Linked DNA regions of Homo sapiens: region 2 is linked to region 1. The links come from fine-mapping of genetic effects on gene expression. A gene starts in region 1. The other region holds a variant in brackets. All regions are shown on one strand. Distances are between the middles of the regions. Region 1 holds the start of KPNA1 (karyopherin subunit alpha 1). Region 2 overlaps KPNA1 (karyopherin subunit alpha 1).

Region 1 (2,917 bases):
TCAATAAATGTTAATTCCTTTACTTTCTCTTACGTCTCATCTATCCATAAAACAGTGTCTTCCAAGAATATTTCAGTAAAAATACAACAGAACTCATTCTTACTTTCCTTTGAAAAATTAAATTTTCATCTCTTTGATCTTTAAAAAGGAGGGAAAAATAACTTGTGTACTGCTTTCAAAATATTACAAATGCAAAAGCTAGTTAAGACAAAAACAATGTCGAGAATGAGCCTTGCTGGTGGCATCCGCCTGTAGTTCCAGCTAGTAGGGAGGATGCCTTGAGGCCAGGAGTTCCAGATCAGCCCGGGAAACAAAGCAAGACTCCATCTCTTAAGAAAAAAAAAAACAAAACAGGAGGGGGGAAATCACTTCATCTACTAATAGAGATTTTTAAGCAACCGTTTATTTAAGAAAAAAGGGTGAAATTCAAGTTAATATTACTTGACAGTACGTTTCAGAAAAAAAAATACTCTGCAGAGCTGGGTGTGGTTGCCCAAGACTAGTCCCAGCTACTTGGGAAGCTGAGGCAAGAGGACAGTTTGAGCTCAGGAGTTGGAGTACAGCCTGGGCAATATAGCGAGACCCCATCTCTTTAAAATACAAACAAAAACTCGGCAATCGTTTGTTCTGAGTTGAAACCTTAAAAATCAAATATTTTGAACGCTTTCATTTAAAAGTGGAACACGACCCAATCCTAAAACATTACTTCATGACGACTTCCTTGACTCCAGTCATCCTTGTTTCCTCCTCCCGTTTTGAGCTTAATCCGATACCTCGCTGCTTCCCTCGCATCGCACACGCGGCGTGCAGACCAAGTTCTGTCATTGCTATAATTACCACACCCCCGATCAGCCGCTCCAGGCCCATGTTGTTATGACATCGGTAAACTGCAGCCGGCCGTCTCCACCCCCCGCTTCCCCCACCTCCCTCCGGGCCGCCGGCTCCGACCCGGTCTGTAACTTGTGAATTCCCAAGACGGTCCCTTTTTGCCAGGGTTAGAATTTTTACACGCCACCCCTGCTCCTTCCTGCCTCTGTCACAGCGCTCTGCGCGGCCCACCCCCGCCTCCCGCCCGCCGCCCGGCCGCGGCGCAGGCTCCGCGCTCGCCTCCTCTCCGCCCGCTGCCTCGGCGCCCCGCAGTCCCCGGCGCCGCTTACAGCCCCGCCGCCGCGCCACGCCGCCCCGCCCCGCCTAGCCTCGACCGGCGTTCCCGATGGCGATCACACCAGGGCTCCCCACCCCCACCCTCTCCTCCGCCGGCCTTGTGGCCGTTAGGACAGCCGGGCCCGTGACGCACGGACGCGGCGCGAGCGTCCGGCCCAGGAACCCCGGCTCTAGGCCCTGCCGGCACCCGCCCTCGCCCCAGGGCCTCTCCTGAGTCCCTCCGGGACTGCCCGGATCTGCCGGCGGGAGGGGGAGGGGCCGGGGCCGCAAGGCCCCAGCACTCACCAGGCTCAAGGCAACCGATCCCGGTGCCACCGCTGAAGTTAGCCCCTCGCTCGCCCGCCCGCCGTGCCACTCCCGCGCACAACCTCGAAGAGCTGGCCCGCGCCTCGGCGGTGCTCACCAGGCCTCGCTCTCCGCCGCCTCGCACCGAGCAGCGAGACTCAGCTCAGCCGGCGTTCGCAGTGCGCCTGCGTGCGGGGGCCGGCCCGAGCGCCTACGCGCGCCCCTCCGGCGCTTGTCGCAGAGGCTGCCGGGAGACGTAGTCTTGTAACGCTCTCTCGCCGGACATTCCTAATGGTTAGCGCCCAGCCTGTGAAGAGTCGGGGGTCGGGGAGGGGGTCTCGCTAAGAAGGAGGTTTGCAGACCATGGCAAAGGTTGGAGAAAGTTATATGTACAAACCTGTCTTTGCTAAGCTCTTCCAGGGCGGATCGATGCTCACCTCTGTATAGCTTCTAAGTACCTAATACGCGTTGATGGAATGAATGATGGAATGATTGAAGGCTGAGGGAGTATTACAAAATTAGTAGGTCAGCGCCTCGTGTCTAAAGGGCTCACATGCAGCATGAATGCAGGAAGCTTCTGGACATTCCTTTTTTAGTTATCTCCCATCCCCTTTGCTTGATAACGTATGCGTAGTATCAAAAATAATTAAGGGCCGGGCGCGGTGGCTCACACCTGTAATCCCAGCACCTTGGGAGGCCGAGGTGGGTGGATCACTTGAGGCTAGGAGTTTTGAGACTAGCCTGGGCAACATGGCGAAACCCCGTCTCTACTAAAAACACAAAAATTAGCAGGGGGTGGTGACGGGCGCCTGAAGTCCCAGCTACTCGGGAGGCTGAGGTGGGAGAATCACCTGAGCCCGGGGTTGACGGTGAGACTGCAGTGAGCCGAGATCGCGCCACTACACTCCAGCCTGGGCAACCGGAGTGAGACCCTGCCTCAAAAATAATAATAACAATAATAATAATAATAATAATGAAACTACATGAAACACATACTCGTTTTACTCTCAACTGCTCTCAAACGAAAACTTGGAGCAAATGATTGCTAATGTTAAATTTCATGGAATTCTTTGGGGGAGCAAATGGAGTAGTGGCTTCAAAAGAAGAAAAACTGAAGCCAGCCTAGCAGGGATCACGGAATAGTAGACAGATTTAAAACACATGCCAAGAAGCAAGGTGAAAGAGATGAGGTAGATTAATACATTTATAAATGTCCCAGGGAAGAGGAGAGGAGAGAGGACCACTCTACCTGAATCCTAGGTTATGCAATGTTCATTTGTCCTGGACTTCTCTCTGCTGCATCAGCATTCTCCCGCTGATGTTGTGTTTACTAAGATCAGAGTTGAGTTTGAGCAAGGGGGCTGGGGAAAGGGAAGGTGTGTTCAACAGGAGAGACTTAAGGGCAAGTTTGCCTGACCACAGCTAGACTGAAGACAGATCACCTTATTCCAATAAGGAACTAAGACTG
Region 2 (2,917 bases), 90 kb before region 1:
AGCTCACAACAGAGAGAAATGGTCATATTGAGATGGATAAAAATTCAGATTTGAGACTTCCATGTATATAGGCATACCTGTGTCTGCAAATGAGCACATTTTGGAACGTAGGAGTTAGCATACAGTATGAAAGTTGAAAGCAAACAATGCTGGTTTCTAAAAGTGGATCCCTTTTCTTCACTGAACATCATCCTTAGACACCACAATTTCCAATATACTTAAAAACCATCAACCCCTAAAAAGTTATAATGATTTGCCTATTGATATAAAAATTTTCACAAAACTAGCGAGAAAGAAAAACCCCTTGACTCCAGGAAAACCTTTTCATAATGCATCCCCCAAGTTGGGGGATTAAATCGCTGAAATGTTTATTTAGCACTAGAGAAGTAAATTCAAAGTTGCCTGTGGGTAGACGTACAATAGAATTGGTTGACAAAGTTTGGTTTATAAAATATACTTACATATTGTTTCTTAGGCAAAAATCGGCAGCAATCTGGAATAATTCAGATTTTTTATGAGATTAATTGCCAATCTTTTTATCTGTGACGATAATGCCAAAAATGACTCAGAGCCAATAACCTTCATCTGTCATATGGAAGAAACAATCCTAGGGCAATAGTTTTTTCAAAAGCGGAACTGACAAAGATAAGCGTTTAAAAGGGTCTTGATCAATTAGTTACAGGAACATGAAAGAAAGTGTTCCACAGAGAACTGTGTCTCCTAAAATCTCTTTCTTCTATCATCTACCTTACCCAAAATTTCTCAATCCAACCACATCTACCTGCTGGTCCATCAGATACCAGATGCCTTTACATCCAAAATTCTCTTAATGCTTTTTTTCCCCCACCAAAGTTCTCATTACAAATAATATAGATTGGAAGTTTGGAGGATGGAGGGGAATAAAAAGGAAAAGTAAAACAAAGTCACTTTCCCCAATCCATATATAAAACTACAAAAGAGTTTTCCTGTATTGAAATTAACATGCTTTTGTAATGAGCAACGCCTTAGTGGTAGGGTATTCAGTGAATTTAAACTAAGTTAACAGAATCTGAGAGGCAAAGAACTAAAAACAGGATATACAGTTACCCCTTAAAATGTCATTTCTGTTACCAAAAAGCCTGCTTCAGTACCAAGTTCCAACATATCTGAGTTATGCTACTTCACTTTTAGCCAATTCCAACTTTGATACTTTAAGAAAAAATCATTTTATTGTTAAAAAA[GA/G]AAAAAAAACTTAGATCTTATAGTTCATGAACTTCTAGGACAAGATAAATTCCTCTGTTTTAGACACAAAATAGATCACGTCAGTTAAATAGACTTTGTTTTAATTCACTCACTGAAACATCTCCAACTACTAGCAAAAATTCCGAATGTCTGAATGCACACTACTCTTCCTAATGTGGGGAGACAACTGTGTGCTTTGTATCTTTCCCACTCAAATTGGCTTATAAAATGAAATTATTTTAACTATCCAATGGAAGGTACATAATTTAAAACATCCTATAGAAATGACATGTTACTAGTAATTTACAATTTTAAAAAACAGCCACAAAAAAGTCAAAGCTAAAAACAAGATTTTTACTATGAATCAGTGCTTCTATTATCCTTCTGAAAGAAGTTATATTTTAATGTGATGTAAAGGCAACATTGAAATTTCTTCTTTAAATTAACCACCTAATTTATCCCTAAAATTACAAAGAATCAGTCTTTTACAGGTCAAGTGCAGTAAACTAAAATGTTCTCTCAGCACAAAGCAGCACTAGAAAAAGTAACAGTTATAGATGGGAGTTGACTAGTTTTGCAGTGGCTGCGCCATCAATAACAAACAGACATCAGACGGTATCCATCCCAGAGCACAGACACTACTACAGACTAGATGCGAAGAATGCGTCACACTCTTGGCTGATAAATGTCCTTTGTCTTTGACTCTTTCTAGTTTGAATGAAGTGGATTTTTTAAAAGTTTAAATCAGGTCACATAAGTTGGCTGCTTAAATAACATCATGATGAGGTATGAAAAGCTCTGAATATCCCTTACATTCAGCAGGATTTACCAGAGATGTATAATAGCTTGTCAGGGGCAACTTCCAAATAGTTTTTACACTTTGGGGTTATAATGAATTCTAGAAGAGGACAAGTCTAAAAAGGTTTAAAAGGGTATGCTCTGAAACAGAGGTGAGCAACCTTTTCCTTCAGAATTCACTTTGAACAGCACATCAACAAAAAAATCTTCTCTGGTAGTGTATCCCAACATTGAGTCAAGATGGCCAACTAGCACCGAGAAGTCGTATTGAACTCATTTGCAGTTGTCTTGGCAATTAAGCGTATTTTTTCATTCCAGTCCAAGCACAAATGTGGATCACTGAACACAGTACTGGAAGCGCCATTTGCAGGTACAGATTGCAGTCATCATTAAATGAGCCAGAAGGCAGATACTGTTTTTATTTTGTGTGGGGGGAGGGGGAAGCGGCACAGTACTAGCAGGAGATGAAATAAAATGATTAGGAAACAATGAGGTTATAAGATCACTGTTCTTATTTGGGTTAAGCAGGTCATGTTGAGAAGATGGTTATTTCTTTCAGATAAGGATGCTACATTAAAGGAATCGTGTGCAGCATGAAAAGATTAGAATCGAGCTGCACCTAAGAAAAAAATCCCAAAGTTACTTTCAAAAGTATGTGTTATCTGCCAGTCACAGAGGGGAAAAGCACCTAGGGTGAACTCCAATTTTTTAATGAGGACCTTGATCAGGACCACAAAGCCTGAAACATTTATTTTAATGCAGAAACACAGCCCCTAGTTACACTGATTGCATTTGGGAAAATTGGAGGGTTTTTTCGTCCTTAGTTTTTTTTATTAAATTACAGGATATGGTTTTCGATTACTAAGTATTCGAAATCCTCATACCAGCAACAGAAATG

What was found. PIP is the estimated chance that this variant, and not a neighbour inherited with it, causes the effect.
Region 2: its variant is the best candidate, but not a certain one, in a credible set for the expression of KPNA1 in whole blood (INTERVAL, PIP 0.59).

The regions. Positions count from the first base shown.
Region 1 is chr3:122,513,308-122,516,224 of GRCh38, forward strand. KPNA1 (karyopherin subunit alpha 1) reads right to left here and starts at 1,632. Exons shown (of 14, transcript NM_002264.4): 1 at 1,450-1,632. It overlaps LOC107984000 (a long non-coding RNA gene), which reads left to right and starts at 1,722. Exons shown (of 2, transcript XR_924403.3): 1 at 1,722-1,821. RefSeq lists a silencer at 910-1,599.
Region 2 is chr3:122,423,270-122,426,186 of GRCh38, forward strand. It overlaps KPNA1 (karyopherin subunit alpha 1), which reads right to left. Exons shown (of 14, transcript NM_002264.4): 14 at 1-2,917. All of the region lies in intron 1 of WDR5B-DT (WDR5B divergent transcript), which reads left to right. Among named protein-coding and RNA genes, the nearest start is that of WDR5B-DT, 8.5 kb to the left of the region's middle. The variant GA/G (reference allele first, on the strand shown) is at 1,221.